Homo sapiens: one gene and its partners. The protein of the gene in region 1 purifies or fractionates together with the protein of each later gene. This does not show direct contact. Each region holds a gene or a part of one and is shown on either strand. Other genes may lie near its edges.

Region 1 (7,020 bases):
AAAAGGTCCTAAGATCTCACCTTTGGCTGACCTTTAAGCTCTGCACACACAAACATTGTGCATATCTATATTTACAGATATACATAAAACTATAAATATTTATAGATATAGAGATACATATAAATATATATGTATTTATAGATATAGAGATACATATAAGTATATATGTATCTATATTTATAGATATACATGCACAATGGACTATTATTCACCCATAAAAAGGAATAAAATGTGGATGAACTTTAAAAACATTATGCTAAGTGAAAGAAGCCCAAGGCCAAATATTGTGTGATTCTATTCCATGAAAATCCAGAATAGGTAAATCCATATAGACCGAAAGAAGATTTGTAGTTGTCAGAGGCTAAGGGGAGAGAGAATGGAGAGTGATTTGCTTGTTGGGTATGTAAGGGATTTATTTTTGGGAAAAGTTTTTCAACTAGATAAACATGGTAGTTCACAACGTTTGAAGGTTCTAAACATCATGAAATTGTTTACTTTTAAAGGTTCAAATTTTGAATTGTACCTCAGCTAAGAAAAGGAATAGGAAATAAATATATTGTAGCTCAATATACAGTATTTATACCTACTTTAATTAATGTTTACTGCCATGTACATGATTCCATGTTTACCTACCAAAGCCGCCTTAATTTTTCTAAGGTGTCATTGCAATGATACCCAACACAGTGACAGACATTACAGATAGGGAGACAATAAAATATGAGGTAAAGCTACAATATCTATTAGTTTGGGAAATATACCTGTAAAACAGACAGATAAGCCAAATGAAGACAGTGTCAATAAGTAGAACATAAAATATATAAAATTTTCACGTATGATAAAGGAGGAAATACGAACTAGTAGATTAGAAAAAAATCCTTTTATAATAATTATACATTTATCTGGAAAGTCATAATATATCATCTCATACAATAAAACAAATGTCAAAATGATCAGTTAAGTATCAAAAAGTTAAACTTAAAAGTAAAGAATAGAACTTCATCAGGGTGGAAGTATTGGAGGGTCCCCTGCCAGCAAAGATCACCTATCCACTCTAAGAGGGAGTTAAGACTGGCGGTTTGGGGATAGCACCAAGAGATATCAGCTGTGATGGCTTGGAAAAACAGTGTAAACCGGCAGTGTAAACAAGAGTAGGGCATTTATAAGTAGTTGAGAATGGTGAATAGGAGTATGACTAGACAGAAGATAGTAGGGATGACTAGTTTTTGGGGCTCGGTCCAAGTAGTGGGGGTAACTTCGTAAAGCCCTGTTGCAAAAAGTAGGGTAAGGACAAACAGACCTAATAGAATGAAGGGATCATTCCCATTCTTATGTCACCCTCTACCTCTCCCCAGCTATCTCCACCACACTACCAACGTTACTTATTCTCTCCTAGCCATTTCTAATCTCTCCTTATTGAACAACTGCTGGCTTTGCATTTCCCTTTCTTCCAGCGCCTACACAGCTGCCCCCACCTTACATGTAGACTGGGCAACATCTGTCTCCCTATACCTCTGAACTTCCTTTAACAGCCCTCACCTTTACCCTCCTGAAGAACTCATTTACTTTCTAGACAGGTCCAGCAAGACCTCCCCAGACATTTCATATCAGCAAGCTGCCGCCCTCCTCCACACTTACTTAAAAAACCTTTCTCCTTATATCAACTCTACTCCCCCCATATTTGGACCTCTCACAACACAAACTACTATTCCTATTCCTGTGGCCACTCCTTTATGTATCTCTCGGCAAAGACCCACTGGAATTCCCCTAGTAACCCTTCACCTTCTCCATGTTCCTTTACTCTTCATCTCCAAAGTCCAGCTATGCATGTCACCGAAACAATTGGAGCCTTCCAGCTCCGTATTACAGAAAAGCCCTCTATCAATACTGGCAAACTTAAAAATATTAGCAGTAATTATTGCTTAGGAAGACACTTACCCTGTATTTCACTCCATCCTCGGCTACCTTCCCCTTGCTCATCAGACCCTCCTCCCAGGCCCTCTTCTTGTTTACTTATACCCAGCCCCGAAAATAACAGTGAAAGGTAGCTCATAGACACTCAACATTTTCTCATATACCATGAAAATCGAACCTCCCCCTCTACGCAGTTACCCCACCAGTCCCCATTACAACCTCTGGTGGCTGCCGCCCTAGCTGGATCCCCAGGAGTCTGGGTACAAGACACCCCTTTCAGCACTCCTCATCTTTTTACTTTGCATCTCCAGTTTTGCCTCGCACAAGGTCTCTTCTTCCTCTGTGGATCCTCTACCTCCATGTGTCTACCTGCTAATTGGACAGGTACATGCACACTAGTTTTCCTTACTCCCAAAATTCAATTTGCAAATAGGACCGAAGAGCTCCCTGTTCCCCTCATGACACCAACACGACAAAAAAGAGTTATTCCACTAATTCCCTTGCTTGTTGGTTTAGGACTTTCTGCCTCCACTATTGCTCTCGGTACTGGAATAGGAGGCATTTCAACCTCTGTCACGACCTTCCATAGCCTCTCTAGTGTCTTCTCTGCTAGCATCACAGACATATCACAAACTTTATCAGTCCTCCAGGCCCAAGTTGACTCTTTAGCTGCAGTTATCCTCCAAAACCACCGAGGCCTTGACTTACTCACTGCTGAAAAAGGAGGACTCTGTATATTCTTAAATGAAGAGTGTTGTTTTTACCTAAATCAATCTGGCCTGGTGTATGACAACATAAGAAAACTCAAGGATAGGGTCCAAAAACTTGCCAACCAAGCAAGTAATTATGCTGAACGCCCTTGGACACTCTCTAATTGGATGTACTGGGTCCTCCCAATTCTTAGTCCTTTAATACCTATTTTTCTCCTTCTTTTATTCGGACCTTGTATCTGCCGTTTAGTTTCTCAATTCATCCAAAACCGTATCCAGGCCATCACCAATCATTCTATACAACAAATGCTCCTTCCAACAACCCCACAATATCACCCCTTACCACAAAATCCTCCTGCAAGTTGACCTCTCCCACTCTAGGTTCCCACGCCACACCTAATCCCGCTCGAAGAAGCCCTGAGAAACATCGCCCATTATCTCTCCATGCTACCCCCCGCACCCAAATTTTTTTTTCGCTGCCCCAACACTTCAATACTATTTTATGTTATTTTTCTTATTACTGTAAGAAGGCAGGACTGTCAGGCCTCTGAGCCCAAGCTAAGCCATCGCATCCCCTGTGACCTGAACGTATATACGCCCAGATGGCCTGAAGTAACTGAAGAATCACAAAAGAAGTGAAAATGGCTTGTTCCTGTCTTAACTGATGACATTCCACCATAAAAGAAGTGAAAATGGCCAGTCCTTGCCTTAACTGATGGCATTACCTTGTGAAAGTCCTTCTCCTGGCTCATCGTGGCTCAAAAAGCTCCCCCACTGAGCACCTTGTGACCCCCACTCCTGCCTGCCAGAGAATTACCCTCTTCGACTGTAATTTTCCTTTACCTACCCAAATCCTATAAAACGGCCTCACCCCTATCTCCCCTTCGCTGACTCTTCTTTTCGGACTCAGCCCGCCTGCACCCAGGTGAAATAAACAGCCTTGTTGCTCAAAAAAAAAAAAAAAAAAAAAAAAAGTTAAACATTTAAAAATAGAAGGTAATGTTTTCAAAATTCTGTATGACTGGAATTTCTAAGCTTAAAAGTCTAAGCTTAAAATCATAATGAATAATTTTTAAAATATTGACTTTTATCCAGTCTGTATTTCAGAAAAAGAAGAATAAATAAGTGACAAACAAGAATGGCTATTTACATACTGCTTTTTAATAACAACTAACTTTCCATATTTATATGTATCAACTGGATTTTAAATTCCTGGAGGGCAGAGCCTATTTCTTGTGTTGTTTTACCATTTTCTCCCACTGCAACAAGTTTAAAGATACCTAAATCGAGTTTTGAATGAAAAGTAGACTTATACCAAACTTTTACTTGTTACTTTAATCTATTGCATACCTGTTCAAAAATACTTCACATTTAGAGAGTCCAAAAGATTAAAACTAGGATAAGCCAAAGCCTTGAGACATACCTGTCTGGTCTGCAGATCTCGAAGCACAAAGGTCCTTATTACTTATATTTCTTCTTGTGCCATTATTCACTTTTAGATCTCCAGTGTCCTCATACTGAGTGGCATTTGAACAACTTCCTTTTTGGCATTTTAGCAATACTCCCTGAGAAACTTGAATACAGGACTATTTTAAGGTTAGGTAAATATCTTCTCTATGGAATGTTTCAGGGACACATTCAATGGAATGATTCCGATGATTGGAACAAGAAATAATTGAAACGGTCACTAGGATCTTTTTAAAATTTTCATGTCTACTGATGGAAAGAATTCAAAATATTATACAATCAATTCATTTATACAACACATATTTGGTGAGAATCTATTCTATGCCAGGCATTCCTACGAACTGGTAATACAATAATAAATAAAGCCAAGTTTCTGCTCTGGGAAGTATATAGGCTCTTTTCATCCTTTCTTAATGTTTTTCTGCAGCCTCCAACACTGTAGTCAGAACATTGTACCATAATTACTTAGTACCTGCTTCTCCCACTAGAATATCACATTCCTCACCCTGACTATTCTTTTCTTAAAAATTTTGGGGAATTTGTAATATTTGGAGTATTGTAGCTGCTCGGTGAATATTTGCTGGACAAAAGGAAAAGCAAACTAAATGCAACCTTAGATAAAATGTATTAAAATATTTAAGCAAAACAGTAAAATTTTATCTATTAAAGTATCCAAGAAACACAGAAAAACTGTTTCAAATACCACACATACACACACATACACACACACACACACACACACACACACACACTCTACACATACACTCCTTTCTCCGTATTAGACTGTATGCCACTTGAGGGCAAGATACTTACCTGATTTGACTGCATATTAAATATAGCACTGTGGAGTGTACTAATAGAGCTTTACATGCAGTAGCTTCTAATTCAATCTTGGTTAATGTAGTGAAGAATGAATGAATAATTATAAAAAGATTTATAAGAGACAAGTAAACATCTTTCATATTTTTATTTAATTAAGATCTTCTAAACTTACCCAACAGGATCAAGGAGATCAAAGTCAAAGTGAGAATACCATTCACGGTTCCAGATATTCCCAGTAAGATTTTATACCAGTGCAACGTCACTGAATAATCTGAGACATTAATCACATGAATTAGTTTAGAAAAGTATGCTTCCAGGAAGTAATACAATAGCAATTGTAATAATAGGATTGTATAAAATATTAGTTTTGGTTTCAAAAGATATTAGGCAATCAAAAGCATGAAGGCTAAGTAAATAGAAAAATATATACATTTATTTAACAATGATAACACTCTGGATGGTCAGAAGCTATGATACGTGTCATATCAAATCTGAAGAAATTGCTAATATTTAACATTATTAATTTGTAGAAAGAATTTTACTCTATGCACTGAATAATTTTCCAACCATTGCGGAGACACACGCACTCATGAACATGCACATGCATTTACAGATAATACATGTGTATCCACATAAACACTTTCTGATTAATCATTAATATAACATTTACAAGTCCTTTGAGCCTTTTTTATTTACTAAGGATGAATCAGAACTAAATATGGCTTTAGGTATCCTGCTATTTTAATCAAAAAAACCCTAAAATCCTTTGTAAGTCATGAATAATATTTCATCTTCTTATTAAATGCTAAACTTTTAAGAACTGTTTTATTTTTCATAGACTTACACTGTCAGGTTTAAGATAAGAGTGCTTGTTCAATGATTATTATTCAAGAAACTGCTATCATTGGACAGACAGTAGAGAGTCTCATCCAGAGGATTTAGGTCTGCTGGGCACTGACTTACGAAATTACATGAATAATTATGTTATACTGAATAAGTGAATATCTATACTTTGTGAAACATTTTGTCCTTATCAAAGATAATTTATGTAAATCTATCATAATAATTGATAAGAATCCTCTATTGTAACCGAAATTATTCTTATTGTTCAGTCAATAAATTGAATTATTAATGCTGAAATTTATATTCTAAATACTCTTTAAACCTGAGAAAATAGAGAAACTACATTTGACGCTGTCAAGCCCTGTCAAGAAAGCACATGATGAACCCTATAGAATGATATTTTAGATAAATAGTTCGCAGGGTTTCTCTTATCATAACATTGTCAAAGATATTAAAATAATTTTATCAGAATTCATTTAATGAATACTCCACATTTCTGAGATTATTTTTGAATTTTTGATATATTAATATTGATAAGCAATAAATTCCAAGAAATCAAGCATGTGTCTTAAAAAAGTCATATATTTATTTTAAAACTTAAAAAATAATTATCAGAAAACATTAGGAAAAAAAGTTGTGGAAGGTGGTTGAAATTCAACTCAGACTGAATTATTTCTCCTAAGCACTACAGGTTGTAGTGAGCTGAGATCGCGCCACTGCACTCCAGCCTGGGCGACAGAGCGAGACTCCATCTCAAAAAAATAATAATAAAATAAAAATAAAAGTAAAAAAAAATTTTAAAAGATGCTGAATAATGGAGAAAGTAAAACTTTCATTATCCTGTGTTTTCTCCTATAAGGAAATGGTTTAATTTAACTTATAAAGGTTAAAACACAAGCCTTTTAACCACCCAAAACCAGAAATAATAAAATGGAAAACCAAAATCAGTCTTATGAATGTCTGTACAAAAATGGTAAATACATTATCAGCAACCAAAATATATTATAACCATGATTGGTTTATTCTAGGAATATAAAGATTATTCAATAGGAGGAAATCCATATTAATATTATATTAATAAAGCTAAGGAAAAAAATCTATCATCATCTCAATAGATGTAAAAAATGAAATTGATAAAATCTTATATCTTTATGTTAAAAAACAGAAATTAATAGATACTTGTTCAACATAATAGTTTTATGTCTAATGAAGCTAACATCTTATTCAATTGAGAAAACTGAAAGAAGGTTTTCTGCTTAAGTCCAGA
Region 2 (7,830 bases), on another chromosome or scaffold:
GATTATAAGCACCCGCCAAGGTGCCTGGCTAATTTTTGTATTTTTAGTAGATACAGGGTTTCACTTGGCCAGGCTGGTCTCGAACTCCTGACCTTAGGTGATCCACCCGCCTCAGCCTCCCAAAGTGCTGGGATTACAGGTGTGAGCCACTGCGCCTGGCCGGGGTATGTACTTTCAACATAGATCGCTTGGGGTGACATTCTCTGTGCCTCAGTTTCCTCCTCTGTAAGGGGAGATAATAGTACTTTTCTTAGAGGGTTGTTGTGAGGATTAAATGAGGTAATACATGGATTGCTTATGACCAAGCCGAGGAAATGTTTGACATGCATTAGTATTTTGTAGATTGTTCCCCGAATTTGTCCAATAATTGATTTAGCCCAGTGGTCCCCAAACTGTTCCATGATAGGAGTCGTCGGAGTGGCCAGGCGTGGTGGCTCACACCTGTAATCCTGGCACTTTGGGAGGCCAAGGTGGGTGGATCACTTGAGGTCAGGAGTTCAAGACCAGCTTGGCCAACATGGAGAAACCTGTTCTCTACTAAAAATACTGTAATCCCAGCTCCTCGGGGGGCTGAGGCAAGAGAATCTCTTGAACCTGGGAGGCGGAGGGTGCAGTGAGCCGAGATTGCGCCACTGCACTCCAGCCTGGGCGACAGAGTGAGACTCTGTCTCAAAAAAAAAAAAAAATCACCTGAGGAGGGCTCTTCCTAGAAAAATCGGACTCAGTGGGTCTGTATGGAGGCCCAGAAATCCTGTTTTTAATCAGCACTCCAGGCCGGGAGCGGTGGCTCACGCCTGTAATCCCAGCACTTTGGGAGGCCGAGGCAGGCAGATCACCTGAGGTTGGGAGTTTGAGACCAGTCTGACCAACATGCAGAAACCCCGTCTCTACTAAAAATACAAAAAAATTAGCCAGGCGTGGTGGCACATGCTTGTAATCCCAGCTACTCAGGAGGCTGAAGCAGGAGAATCGCTTGAACCCAGGAGGCGGAGGTTGTGGTGGGCGAGATCGTGCCACTGCACTCCAGCCTGGGCAACAAGAGCGAAACTCCATCTCCCAAAAAAAAATAAAAAATAAAATAAGCACTCCAGGCATTTCTTATCCTCAGGGAAGCTTAGAGAGTACCGTGTATCATACTCTGTGAAACCCATGGAAGCTCACATTGGCTCCCACCTCTCCACACACACTCCTGCTCCCAGACTGCACTTAAAAACACCTGCGCCTGGAGGTAGCAGCCGCCTGAGCTACAGAGGAGGGCTTGAGAAGAGGGGAGAAGTGGAGACTCAGGGGACCTGGTGGCAGAGAGTTTCAAGCTGGAAAGTCAAGCCTGGCTCAGTCCACACAGACCTGCTGCTCTGTGGATTTGAGCAAGTTAATGAACCTCTTGGGGCTGATCCCCCACCTAGGGGCTGCTGTGAGGGCGCAGTGAGATCTCGAGGCCCACACATAGGAGCTGATTTTAATAGAGGAGGGAAGTCTGATCCTACACAGATTCCTGAGGAAAGGGAGACAGCAGGGGGTGGAGAAGGGCTGGAAGGGGGTAGTGGGAGTCCAAGTTTTTGGCACCAAATCAAAGGCACCTGGGGGGTGGTGGGGCTGGGAGCCGGGGGCCAGCTGGCCTGTCTGTCTCCCTGACCTCTCCCTGTTGCCACAGACCTTGTGGCCTGAGGCTGGACTATAGGTGTTTCCAGTGGCTGTCCAAGTTCATGAAGGTGTTAGTGTTTATTGGTGAACTTGAGGATGTTTGCATCCTTGGGGGTTGTTTCTGCTATGGGAGAAAGGGGATTTGTCCACCTGGTTCAGGTGGGAATCTGAGCCCAATGGGTGACCCTTCCGAAGAAAACTCAGATGGTCCTCCTCTCCCAGCACTCCCAGCCTTGCACTCTCTTCCCCTCCACTGTAGGGGTGGGGTCCCCCGGTTGGAGAAAAGCCTGGGGGCTAGCTGGGTGCTGCCCCCAGCTCCTCACTGCGTCCTCCCACTGAATCCCGAGAGGCATGCGCTATAAACCCACTTTACAGAGGGGAAAATGAAGCCTGAGGCCACGGAGCAGTGATGCGCAGGGCAGGGGTTCAAGTCTCATGAGGCTGGTAAGCCTGTCTGCTCCTGTGTCTTCCAGGGTCTCCTGGACCAAAGCCCCAGCCCCACCTACCCCTGCGGCCCCCGCCCTTGGGAAGTGAGGGAACAGTGTGGGAATGGAGGCAGCCCACCGGAAGACCTGGTTCCTCCGGCTAGAGTGAGTGAGTGAGTGTGTGTGTGTGTGTGTGCGCGCGCGCGGGCGCGCCGCCCTTGTTGAGAGACTAAGGAAGTAGTTTGCCCTCTCTTAACCTCTGTTGGCCGCTCTGTAAACTGCGGGCACACTCTGGCCTTCTCAGGTGGTGGTGAGGCTTCCCTGAGCTCTCGCCTGCGAAGTGGTCAGCACGTCCCCGGCAAGGTTCCAAGTGTCCTTGTTTTGTGCATCACAGGGAGGGCAAAGCTCACCTCACGCGAAGCGCCATGAACATCACTTTTACATGGAAGCCCAGCACCCCTGGGTTCTCCCTAAGCCCCTCCTAAGCCCGCCCACTTCCCGCCACTTTCAGGCTGCAGCCTCCGATGGCCCTCGTTTCTGCTCTTTCTACCGCGTGATAGCGGCGCGAAGCCCACCCAGCCCTGGGGGCGGAGGCCCGGTCTCCCCGCCATGGCAGTAAACCCCACTCTGCCAGCACACTGGCGGGTGTGGAGGGAGGGAGAGCGGCTGATCCCCTGGTCCCTAGATGGTGCACACGCCAGGAAGGGCGGTAGGGATACGGCACAGGTGTGAGGGTGCAGACGCTCCCCACTACCCTTTCCACCCCTCCCCCGCGCCCTCCGCTGCCTCCCTCACCCGGGCACGGCTGTCGCAGCAACTGGACAACGGTGACATTGGTGAGGACGATGTCGCGCTTCGACATGGCCTCTTATAAGGTTATCATTGGCCTGGACCTGCTGTGATGTTACCGAGGTGCGTGCGGAGCGCCAGGGCTGTGGGTCCTGGGCTAATTGCCCTGATGTCACAGCACCCAGTGACGTCACAGTACCCAGTGACGTCGCCGAGGGGCGGCGCCCAAGCCAGAGGCCTGACACCATCGCATCCCATCCCCGTAGAGGCATGGGACGTCAGCACGCTATGCATCACCGTTCCACGGCCACGCACTGCCGTCTGGAATGGAATCCCACTTTTTAAAATTATCATTTGTTTATTTATTTTGAGACGGGGTGTCACTCTTTCTCCTAGGCTGGAGTGCAGTGGTGCAATCATGGCTCACTGCAGCCTTGAACTCCTGGGCTCAAGCGATCCTCCCGCCTCGGCCTCCTGAGTAGCTGGGACTACATGTGCAGCCACCACTGCAGGCTATTTTTACTTTTTATTTTTTTGTAGAGAGAGGGTCTCACTCTTTTGCTCAGGCTGGTCTAGAACCCTTGGGCTCAAGCGATCCTCCCACCTCGGCCTTCCAAAATGCTGGGATTACAGGAGCGAGCCACCACACCCAGCCTGGAATCCCACCTTTTACACTGTTCCTGAAAGCCCTTTCCTCTTCTCTGTCTCTTGAAGCACACAGGTTCCATGCTGTCCCTTGGATTCTCCAGTGGAGTGACTCTTGCTGCCTCCGTATGCCTGGAAGGCCCACCCAGGGCTTCCCTTGGCTGCCTCTTGGTTTCCCACCCTTTAAGAGAGGCTTTCTACACTCTGCATCTAAGTTCCCTCCTTTCTCTGTCACTGTCAGCCGTCACCCCCTTCCCAATTTCTGCCCATCTTCCAGGAAGCCTTGTCTGACTTCTCCATTCTGAGTTATGCTTCAGTGTGCAAAATTTCTCTAGGGCTACACTGTCTATGTTTTTATTTTCCTTAGAGCACATGTCTCTCTAAAAATTGTTTGTTTTCTTGCCAACTGTCTCTGTCCACCAGACTGTAAGCTCTGAGAGGACAGGGACGTCATCTATGTCACTTCTGTATCCCATTGACAAGAAAAGTGTTTGGCACCTGAAAGGTGTTTGTGGGCTGGACGCAGTGGCTCATGCCTGTAATCCCAACACTTTGGGAGGCTGAGGTGGGAGGATCATTTGAGTCCAGGAGTTTGAGACCAACATGGGCAATGTGGCAAAACCCTGTATCTACAAAAAATAAAAAAAGTAGCCAGGTGTGGTGGTGCATGCCTGTTGTCCCAATTATTAGGGAGGCTGAGGTGGGAGGATCACTTGAGCCTAGGAGGTCAAGGCTGCAGTGAGCTGTGATTGTGTCACTGCACTCCAGCTGGGAGACAGAGCAAGACCCTGTCTGAAAAAGGCGTTAGCCCAATAAACTATACCTGAATGAATAAATGTCAATTCCTCAGGTTTCATCTGATCGCTAATCTTTTCTTTTCTTTTCTTTTTTTTGAGACAGAGTTTCGCTCTTGTTGCCTAGGCTGGAGTGCAATGGTGCGATCTCAGCTCACCGCAACCTCCGCCTCCTGGGTTCAAGTGATTCTCCCGCCTCAGCCTCCTGAGTAGCTGGGACTACAGGCGTGCGCCACTACACCTAGCTAATTTTTTTTTTGTTTTTGTATTTTTAGTAGAGACGGGGTTTCACCATGTTGGCCAGGCTGATCTCAAACTCCTGACCTCAGGTGATCCATCTGCCTCGGCCTCCCAAAGTGGTGGGATTACAGGCGTGAACCACCTCGCCCGGCCCTGATCGCCAATCTTATCAAACTCTTCACGTTATATCTTCTCGCAGCACCCATTCTTTTCCTTGTAGCTTTTCATGTAGTTTGTCATGATCTACTGATTGGTTTATTTGTTCGATGTCTCCCCCTTGGGCTCTAAGCCCCTCACAGGGCTCCTGTTCTTGTTTGTTTGTTCACGACTGTGCCTCCAGCACTTAGAACAATACAAAGCAGGTTTTCAATGAACGTCTGACAAAGAACAAGTGGACAAACAGCTCCCTCCCCTGCAGCCCCGGGGTAGGGGTTTGCTTGCACCTCAGTGACTCACAGGCAGGCACCATCACCTGCACAGCAGGTTGACACGCAGCTGTGACCAAGGTTCAGGGGGAGTGGGGGTTTGTGCCAGGAAGGAGTCACCATCCCAGAGAGGGATGGATGCAAGAAGGGGCAGAATGACATAACCTCTTCCTTCCGCCAACATCCATGAGAAATTCATTTGCCAAGCACCTGCCATGGGACCAGGGCAGGGTGAGGCTCTCCTGCTTTGATGGCCTGGGAGAAGAAAGTAAACTAAGTGTACAGGTGAGGAGGTTTTAACGAACCGAGACCAAAACACAGATGATTAATTAAACAAAGGGAGCTACATTTTGGTGTACAATCAAGGAGGTGAAAAATATAACCTCAACAAAACCAGGATTCAAAAGGGGCTGATTTTGGCTGGGTGCAGTGGCTCACACATGTAATCCCAGCACTTTGGGAGGCCGAGGCAGGTAGACCACCTGAGGTCAGGAGTTTGAGACCAGCCTGGCCAACATGGTGAAACTCCATCTCTACTAAAAATACAAAAATTAGCCAGGTGTAGTGGCATGCATCTGTAATCCTAGCTACTCGGGAGGCTGAGGCAGGCGAATCACTTGAACCTGGGAGGCGGAGGTTGCAGTGAGCCGAGATTGCCACTGCACTCCAACCTGGGCAACAGAGTGATACTTCATAAAAAAAATAAATAAAATAAAGAAAGGACAACTCCAGGCCATTCTCAGTTATGGAGCCAGATGCTGAAGTCCTGAATCGAATCGTGCCACATGGGAATAGAGAGACAGAGGAGAGGGACTGAGGCTGGCAGAAGATGAAAGGATGGGGTGGAGAGGGATAGAGAAGATGGAACACAGTTCAGGCCAGGCACAGTGGCTCACGCCTGTAATCCCTGCCCTTGGGGAGGCCGAGGTGGGCGGATCACCTGAGGTCAGGGGTTCGAGACCAGCCTGGCCAACATGGTGAAACCCCGTCTCTACTGAAAGTACAAAAATTAGCTGGGCATCATGGCAGGTGCCCGGCTAATCCCAGCTACTCGGGAGGCTGAGGCAGAAGAATCACTTGAACCCGGGAGGCGGAGGTTGCAGTGAGCCGAGATCATGCCACTGCATGCCAGCCTGGGGGATAGAGTGAGACTCTCCCTCCAAAAACACAAAAAGAAGATGGAACACAGTTCAAAGTGGGAGAAATCCCACCTCTTGATCTCTGGGTGGGTTAGGATTCTGACACTCATCACCCACTCTTCTCTGCCCAGCCACCTCCTGGTATGGGAAACTCCATCATTTCGGCCCTGGACCAGGGCAGAAAAACCACACCTGAGTTTGCCCAGGAATTTGGCTTTGTCCCTGGAGTGTGAAACCGGGAAACAGATTTGATGAGCTCAAGCTTGGAGAGGTGGCACACTTAGTCACCCTCTATAGGCAGAGCCCAGAGAAGGCAGAAGCTTCTGGATATCTGTCCTGGGATGCCTGTCTTTGGGTGGAGTCAAGTGTCCAGGAGCTGGAGAGGAACCCCGGGTCCTCTGAGGGGAGTGGGCCTTGGCGCCTTTGTTTGAGCAAAGCCTGAAAACACGTGCAGATTCTCGCCACACCTGGGCACCCACACACATAGCTCTGCCACCTCCAGCTGCTCACACCCTGCACATTGTTCCTGCCTGGCCTTCCCACCAGCAATCCCACCTCCACCCCTCTCTCAGTCTCTCCCCTTGGCACCAAAACCCAAATATCTTTCACCCCTGCACCTACTGTACCCACCCACTGGCTCTCGTTCTGGTCTTAGCCTCCCTCCCAACTGGCTTCTAGATGCATCTGCTGCCCCAAGCCTGCCCACCACCACCTGCCCTTCCTTCCGATGCCCTTTTCATGCCTGAGGCCAGACTCTCAGCTGTTTCCCCTCCAACCCGAGCCAATATGTCAACACTTGGGGCTTCAGGTTGGGGCTTAGGAGGCCCCATGTCGGGAGGGCAGGAAGGATGAGGGCCTGGCCCCAGCCCAGGTTCTGGCTCACAGGCTCCTGCTGCCCTGGGTCTTCGGCCCCTCCCCGTGGCTGCCTCAACCGGCTTTTCAGGAGACACTGCGTCCTGTTCCAGCTCGTGGCAATCAGCCCCCTGCCCTTGCCCAAGGGCTGGGAGGCAGGAGGTCTGGGTTCTGCGACAGGAATGGGATCCTGCCTCCAAAATCTGCGGCACTCCACAAGGGACTCTATGCTGCCCTGGCGACCCAGGCGCCCTTCCCTCCAGCACCCTGTGAGACCCAGACTCGGGCTCGGAGTCTCTTTCCTTGGCCTGTTCGAATCCATCCATTTGTCCAGTCAATAAATATTTACTGAACCCCAGGCAGTGTTCAAGAAGCTAGGAATACAGCAGTGATCAACACGACCAATTTACATTGCTAGTAGGTGAGACAGGCAATAAAAAATAAAGGTAATTTCAGATTTTTTTTTTCTGTGAAAACAAAAGGGTGATACTACAGAGTATAATTAATGCCATGTTATGGTCAGGAGAGGTTTTCTTGCGAAGTTGGCATTTAAGTCAAGTACGGATGAGGAGGAGCCAGCCACGTGAAGATCTGGGTTCTGCATTCCAGGCAGAGAGAGGAGCATGTGCAAAGGCCCTGCAGCAGGAATGAGCTTGGTGTGTTTGTGGAACAGGGAGAAGGCCTGTGTGGCTGGAATGGAATGAGTGAGGGCAGGGGCTGGCCCACAAGAACGAGGTCTGATGACTCCTTCATCCCACCTAGTGTTCTCCCCTCTCCAGACGGTGCCTCCCATCATTCTAGCCCCTCACTGCCTGGGGAGCTGGAGGCTTAGATGCCTGAGAGGAGTGAGGTGTTGAAGAATTGCCTGCATCCCAGG
Region 3 (7,288 bases), on another chromosome or scaffold:
AATAGTGGTGCCTTTAGGAGGCAATTAAGACATGAGGGCTTGGCCAGGTGTGGTAGCTCACGCCTGTAATCCCAGTACTTTGGGAGGCTGAGACAGGTGGATCACCTGAGGTCAGGAGTTCAAGATCAGCCTGGCTAACATGGCAAAACCGCATCTCTACTAAAAATACTAAAATTACTCAGGCGTGGTGGCACACGCCTGTAATCCCAGCTACTAGGGAGGCTGAGGCAGGAGAATTGCTTGAATTTGGCGGGGGTGGGGGCGGCCAGGGATGGCGGTTGCAGTGAACTGAGATTACGACACTGCACTCCAGCCTGGGCAATATAGAGCGAGACTCTGTCTCAAAAGAAAAGAAACAGGCATGAGAGCTCTGCCCTCATGCATGGGATTCGTGTCCTTATAAAAGAGGCTTGAGGGAGCCAGTTGACCCTTCTACCATGTGAGGAAGCAGTGAGAAGATGCCATCTTTGAAGCAGGGAGCAAGCCCTCACCGGACACCAAATCTGCTGGTGCCTTGGTCCTGGATTTCCCAGCCTCCAGAACTGTGAGCAATAAATTTCTATTGTTTATAAATTATCCAGTCTAAGGTATTTTGTTATAGCAGCCCAAGCAGACTAAGACAGTGTTCACAGGTCACACTTTAAGCAACATGGATTTTGATGCTACTAAAGACCACCATTTTCAAATACTTTTTCTTTCTTTTGGACAATTATACAATCATATTGGTTATGCAATGAACAGACTTGATTAGACTAATGTAACACCGACCGCCTGAATATTTGCTCACGGGGGTCTGTATGCTTTATTCTGTGCACACAATCCCGTTTTTCCTTGAGTCTCCTCCATAAAGCAGAGCCCGGGGTAGGCCTCAGGGCTATATGTAGCTAGACTTTCTGGAGTATGACTAAGTGTCTGTACCGGACTAACACAGTAACAACTACTAGGTAACTGCAATTTAATTGCTCAAATCAGAACTAACTTCTAAAACATGTTTCTTCCCTTATAGTCATAGACTAAATTCTAGCCTAACTAGTGACAGATACAAGCTGTAATAATGTGTTATCTGTGTCTTAGCCTCCTAGGTGAAAATTTTTTCTTCCTTTATTTTTATCCCTATGGTTGAAGAAAGTAGCAGAGACCAACTGAATGAAGGTAAAAACCACTGGCTTTCTTAGGAAGAACTGTAGAGCAAAACAAAATTCATTTCTGGAGAGGAATAATTCCTACTTGAACGAATGGAAAAATAAAATCGTAGAATTAAAAAAAATAAACACATTGTAGAATAAAAACAACTTTGGTAATAAATTCAGATCCTAATCGTAAAAATTCATTTTTTAAGTAGCTCAATTATATAAATGACTCACTTATATAACCAAGGAGCTATATCATGGAGCATTTTTAAAGGTTTTTGTTTTTACACTAGGGTAAGCATTTCCCAAGTTTGTCTGTAACATGTGGCTTTTTCAAAATAAAAGAAAATGAGAAAATTCTCCCTACTGTCTCAATTAACGTAATTATGAATTAAGGAAGACCTAATTGATAGGGTTTTACTCTCTAGGTGCATAAATATATGGTGAAATACTCATTAAAATAATTACTAGACAGAAGTGCTCAGCTCCCTGTACCTTCTGAGATCCTCCCACCAGTAAAGGGAGGACGACAGAGTGGTAGCGCTTTCCTGTTAGTGTGCCAAAGAGAGGGGACACTGGTCACCAGGATAATCTAATGAAAATACCTCTGGGCTAATCGTCAAGAGATAGGGATTAAGTTAAGGTTCCAAAATGGTGAATACTATCCCCACCCCTTATGTCCAACCTCATCCCTCCCCGCCGAGCTTTCACTTTTCTCCCGGGAATTGCGGATGTGCAGTCTACTGCAGCAGCCCTGCGGGGAGGAATGGAGGAAGGGAAGGGGACGGCTGCAGGGTGTGTCACTTACGAGATGTAGGCTGGGTAGCCAAATCCTATCAGGTTGCAGAGGAGAGAGGCTCCATAACCGAACACCAGGTACAAGGCCACCAGTCCGATGACACCTGGGGACCACAAGGAGAGAAGTGGGTCGGGCAGCATGAGAGCCGTTCACGCGGGACAGCCGCCGCCCACACCGCGAGGCTGGGCCTGTTGTAGGAGTTTTCCTCTCGACTCGATTAAAGGAGCGAGAAAAACAAACCACACGAAAGCTGGGCCTGCGCGTCCGCTGGGCTATGCCTTGAAGTCTGGGGATACCAGGCAGCCCCACCATTGTGCCTCTCCTACCTCCCGCAGGGGGCCCCGGCGCTTTGCGCAGCAACCCCCGGCGCCCGGGACGGTCCCAGGCACCCGCTTCCGCCCTCTCGCAGGGCCTGCTGGGCAGCGCTCCAGCCTGGGAAGCTGCGCTCAGCGGGGAGCGTCCCGAGAGGCCCGGACTCCCGCACACGCTGCAGTAGCAGCCCCCGCCCACCCGAGAGGCGCCCTCTCCGGGCGGAGCTCCACGGAGGGTCGGGTAGGACCGGGTACCTCCGTCAACGCGCCCGCCCGCAGGGGCCCCGCCGTCCGCGCCCACCGCGCAGGACAGCAGGAATAGGGCGCCGGGCCGCGGGGCAGACATACGTCAGCGCTGGCCCTTCCAGCTGCCAGCGCCCGGCGCCGCAGCTGCCCTCCAGCCCCGCGACCCTCAGCCTGGGCAGCCCCCGCGGGGTCCTCCGATGCCCACGCTTTCCGGGAGGCCAGCCTGATCCCTGAATATGCTGCTTGTCCCGTCTGTCTCCGACTCCACCTTTCCCGAGTCCTCTCCCTGCTTCCTTCCCCAGCAGCTGGGGCAGCGGCGGCTCCCGTGGCCCTACCAGCGGCGGCGACCCCCGGCCACCCACCAAGAGCGATGAAGCTCCTGTTCACGCCGGTTTTGGCCTCGAGCTTGGCCAGAAGGTCAGTCATGCAGTTCTTCTCGTGCAGGAACCGGTCGAACCTCTCCCTCATGGCCGCAGACATGGCGGGGACCGTCTCGCCGCTCGGGGCTGTTCCTAGTGCCGGATAGACTGGAGCGGCGACTGCGGCGGAGCAGCGGCAGGCGGGGACCGCGGCGCGTCTACGCGTCCTCCACTCGCCTCCGCTCGCCCCGCCCGGCCGCCGCGCGCCCCTCCTCGGCCGCCGCGCGCCCCTCCTCCCCCGCCCAGCGCCAGGGGGACAGCGCCACACCCTGGCGGGGGCGGGCCTGCAACTCCGCGGACGCTGCGAGGTGGCCTGCCTGTTGACAGTCTTAACCCATTGCGGGGTAAAAAGGATGTGGCGTGGGGGCGTGCATTTTGTGTCTCTCGTGGGTCCCCTTCTCAAATCGGACTATTGCAAAAAGCAGGCAGAAAGGAGGCAGGCGTCCTTGTTGCTCCCGCCTGCAATTCACTGCGATGAGTTTGGCACCTACATTGCTGTGCTAAACCTAAGGCATTTTTGACCTAAAAAATTGAAATGTTTGAGCATCGTGAAAGAACTCTTTGGAAGCAGTCCTGCTTTCTCCCTCTTTGCCTTAACTTGGCAGTTTTTCTCACCTACAGACAATCGTTGCCTTGTAAAGACCCTTGAAGAAATCTAACACATCCTCCCTGGGGTACACCTTTTCCAAGCAAAAACTGCATTAAATCTTTTCATGGTGGGCTTGCGTTGTCTTGGTGTCTGATACTGTGGCAAGTGTCCAAATTCTCTCTGTGGAGCCAATATACTCTGCACTTCCTACAGTCAAAATACTCTGAAGAAGACGGAGATTCTAAGGTCCAAGCCTTAGGGCAGGAGCTCATTTTTGCTTCCTTCAGAATGAGTTGGCCATGCTCTTCCTCCACCTAAACCTAGGCTCCTCTTATCTCACCCATATGACTTCCAGACACTCCTAAAATTACTCTTGTTGACTCCTATTCTGCACACTGCTGCAGAATTTTTGTCCGAAGCTCCGTATTATTATCCTAACAGACTAGAGCTCCCATTCCTTGGCAGAGCATTCAATGCCCTGCCCACAACTGGCCCCGAACATTCTGTCTTGGTCCTACACAACCCCTCTGTGCTTTCAAATCTACTTAATTACCCTACTGCCTTCCACTTCTGCAAAAAGTTATCTTGCCCACGCCTAGCTTTTTCCTTTTATGCTAATTCTCCTTCCTCCTTTCTTCCTCAGAGCTTCTTAGCTCAGCTTTCTCAGCTGTTCCTACCACCACCCAGCCAAATCAGTGAACAAGTGAAACAACCTGCTGTCTACTTCTGTCTTTTCACCTACAGTTAATTCTCAATGTGGCAGACAGTAGAATCTGTTTTAAAATGTGCGTCAAGTTGTGCTATGTTTTTGTTCTCAACCCTCCAGCAACTTCCTATCTGCCTGAAGGAGGGCATCAGGGTCACAGGTGACATGGTTCATCCCTCCCCTTTCTGATGTCTTCCCTTACTGCCTCCCTCCTTGCTGTGCCTCAGACAAGGTAAGCCCATTCCTGCCTCTGGGCGTTCGTTCACTTTTCTTCTATTTCAGTGGTTCTCAACCAGGAGCACTTCCTCTCCCCTTCTTCCTCCTGGGGGGAGGAGTAGCAATGTCTAGAGATACTTTCGTTGTGAAACAGATTGTCACACAAGGAGAGCAGGAGGTGGCAAGTGCAACTAGCATCTAGTGGTTAGAGACTAGGGGTGCTGCTAAACATCCTGTAACACACAGGACAGCCCCCACAACAAAGAATTATCCAGCCCCAAATGTCAATAATGTGACAGTCCAGAAACCCTCCTCTATCTGAAAGTATCTTTCCCCAGTTAACCATTTAACTGTCCCCTTCCATTATTCAGATATTTGTTCAAATGGTACCCCTAATCTCAAATTGCAACCCCCAGTGGTCTCTAGCTTGATTTTTCTCCATAGAATTTATTACTGTCTGGCATTATGTTCTACTTTTTTTTTTTTTTTTTTGAGACTGTCTCACTCTGTCACGCAGGCTGGAGTACAGAGGCGTGGTCACAGCTCACCGCAGCCTCGACCTCCTGCTGTGCTCAAGCCATCCTCCCACCTCAGCCTCCCAAGTAGCTGGGACCATAGCCGTGTGCCACCATGTCCGGCTAATTTTTTCTGTTTTTAGTATAGATGGGGTTTCACTATGTTACCCAGGCCAGTCTTGAACTCTGTGATCTGCCCACCTTGGCCTCCCAAAGTTCTGGGATTACAGGTATGAGCCACCACCATGCCAGACCATGTTCTATTTTTAAATTATCTTTCTTTCCTCACTAGATTATGAGCTCCGTGAGGGTAGACATTTTTGCTTATTTTATTTGCTTCAATATTTTAAGCACATTGAACAGTGCCTGGCACTTAGTAGTTGTTCAATAACTATTTGTTGAATTAATGAATGAATGAATATCTAACATGTGTTGTACCACCCAGTATTCCAAGTGTTACGTGGACTAGTTCATTTAATCCTCACAGCTGCATGAGGAAGATGCTACCTGTTTCATCCTCATTTAAGGAAAAAAAAAATGAGACATAGTGAGTTCCCATATCACAATAAGTGGCAGAGCTAGAATTCAGAATCAGGCTCTTACCCCTATATTACATTGCTATTATGGGTTGAATTGTATTCTACCTCCCTAAAGAAGACATGTTGGAATCCTAACCTACAGTACCTCAGAGTGTGATCTTATTTGGTAATAGGGTCTTCAAAGAGGTAGTCAAATTCAAATGAACTCCTTAGGGTGGACCTCAATCCAGTGTGACTGTTGTCCTTATAAAATGGGAAATTTGGCCAGGCGCGGTGGCTCACACCTGTAATCCTAGCACTTTGGAGGCCGAGGCAGGTGGATTACGAGGTCAGGAGATCGAGACTATCCTTGCTAACACGGTGAAACCCCATTTCTACTAAAAATACAAAAAATTAGCCGGGCGTGGTGGCGTGCACCTGTTGTCCCAGATACTCAAGAGGCTGAGGCAGGAGAATGGTGTGAACCCAGAAGGCAGAGCTTGCAGTGAGCCGAGATCAAGCCAATGCACTCCGGCCTGGGCAACAGAGCGAGACTCTGTCTCAAAAAAAAAAGGGGGGGTGAAATTTGGACGGAGACAGATGCATATAAAGGGAAGACTGTGAAGAAACACAGGGAGAAGATGGCCATCTACAAGCCAAGAAGAAAGTCCTGGAACAGATCATTCCCTCACAACCCTCACAAGGAACCAATCCTGCTGAGACCTTGATCTTGGACTTCCAGCCTCCAGAGCTGTGAGATAATAAATTTCTGTTTTATTTATTTATTTAGAGACAGGGTCTCACTGGGTCACCCAGGCTGGACTGCAGTGACACAATCTCCACTCACTGCAACCTCCACCTCCCAGGTTCAGGCAATTCTTCCACCTCAGCCTCCCAAGTAGCTGGGGCTACAGGTGTGTGCCACCATGCCAAGCTAATTTTTTTTTTTTTTGTAGAGATGGGGTTTCACCACACTGGCCAAACTGGTCTCAAACTCCTGACCTCAAGTGATCTCCCCATCTTGGCCTCCCAAAGTGCTGGGACTGCAGGCATGAGCCACTGCACCTGGCCTCAATTTCTATTATTTAAGCTACCCAGTTTGTGAGACTGTTACAGCAGCCCTAGGAAACTAGTACAGCTGCTTAGCAGAATAACTGAACTGTAAACTTCAAACCAGTTGTGAGTTTGTATAATTTCCTACTGAGTACAGTATGTATATTAAGTTGGGGTTGTTTTTGAATACTTAAAGTGATTCATAATTTGATTTTTTTTTTTTTTTTGAGATGGAGTCTGCCTCTGTCACCCAGACTGGAGTCCAGTGGCATGATCTTGGCTCACCGCAACCTCAGCCTCCCAGGTTCAAATGATTCTCGTGCATCAGCCTCCTGAGTAACTGGGACTACAGGTGCACACCACCACGCCTGGCTAATTTTTGTATTTTTTTGTAGAGATGGGGTTTCACCATGTTGGCCAGGCTGGTCTTGAACTCCTGACCTCAAGTGATCTGCCTGCCTCAGCCTCCCAAAGTGCTGGGATTACAGGTGGCCACAGTGCCGGTCCTGATTTTTTTTTTTTTTTTTTTTTTTTTTTAGACAAGGTTTGACTGTATCACCCAGGCTGAAGTGCAGTGCACAATGTTGGCTCACTGACCTCCACCTCCTGGGCTTACGCCATCCTCCCACCTCAGCCTTCCAAGTAGCTGGGACTACAGGTGTGCACCACCACACCCAGCTAATTCTTGTACTTTTTTGTAGAGATGGAGTTTTGCCATGTTGCCCAGGCTGGCCTCAAACTTGTGAGCTCAAGTGATCCGCCCATCTCAGCCTCCCAAAGTGCTAG

What was found.
Region 2: the proteins of KLRF1 (region 1) and GAPDHS purify together in Homo sapiens (affinity purification with mass spectrometry; 3 studies listed by BioGRID and IntAct, with this or other methods). This does not show direct contact.
Region 3: the proteins of KLRF1 (region 1) and REEP5 purify together in Homo sapiens (affinity purification with mass spectrometry; 3 studies listed by BioGRID and IntAct, with this or other methods). This does not show direct contact.

The regions. Positions count from the first base shown.
Region 1 is NC_000012.12:9,830,477-9,837,496, reverse strand, and holds part of KLRF1 (killer cell lectin-like receptor subfamily F member 1), read right to left. Parts: intron 5,182-7,020; coding exon 5,083-5,181; intron 4,236-5,082; coding exon of another isoform or gene 4,219-4,235; exon of another isoform or gene 4,208-4,218; coding exon of another isoform or gene 4,195-4,207; coding exon 4,045-4,194; intron 1-4,044. UniProt on the Homo sapiens protein: Functions as an activating receptor involved in immunosurveillance upon binding to various ligands displayed at the surface of myeloid cells.
Region 2 is NC_000019.10:35,528,629-35,536,458, reverse strand, and holds the start of GAPDHS (glyceraldehyde-3-phosphate dehydrogenase, testis-specific), read right to left. Parts: upstream 3,004-7,830; 5' UTR 2,932-3,003; coding exon 2,865-2,931; intron 1-2,864. UniProt on the Homo sapiens protein: May play an important role in regulating the switch between different pathways for energy production during spermiogenesis and in the spermatozoon. Required for sperm motility and male fertility.
Region 3 is NC_000005.10:112,919,225-112,926,512, forward strand, and holds the start of REEP5 (receptor expression-enhancing protein 5), read right to left. Parts: upstream 3,004-7,288; 5' UTR 2,967-3,003; coding exon 2,849-2,966; intron 2,033-2,848; coding exon 1,939-2,032; intron 1-1,938. UniProt on the Homo sapiens protein: Plays an essential role in heart function and development by regulating the organization and function of the sarcoplasmic reticulum in cardiomyocytes.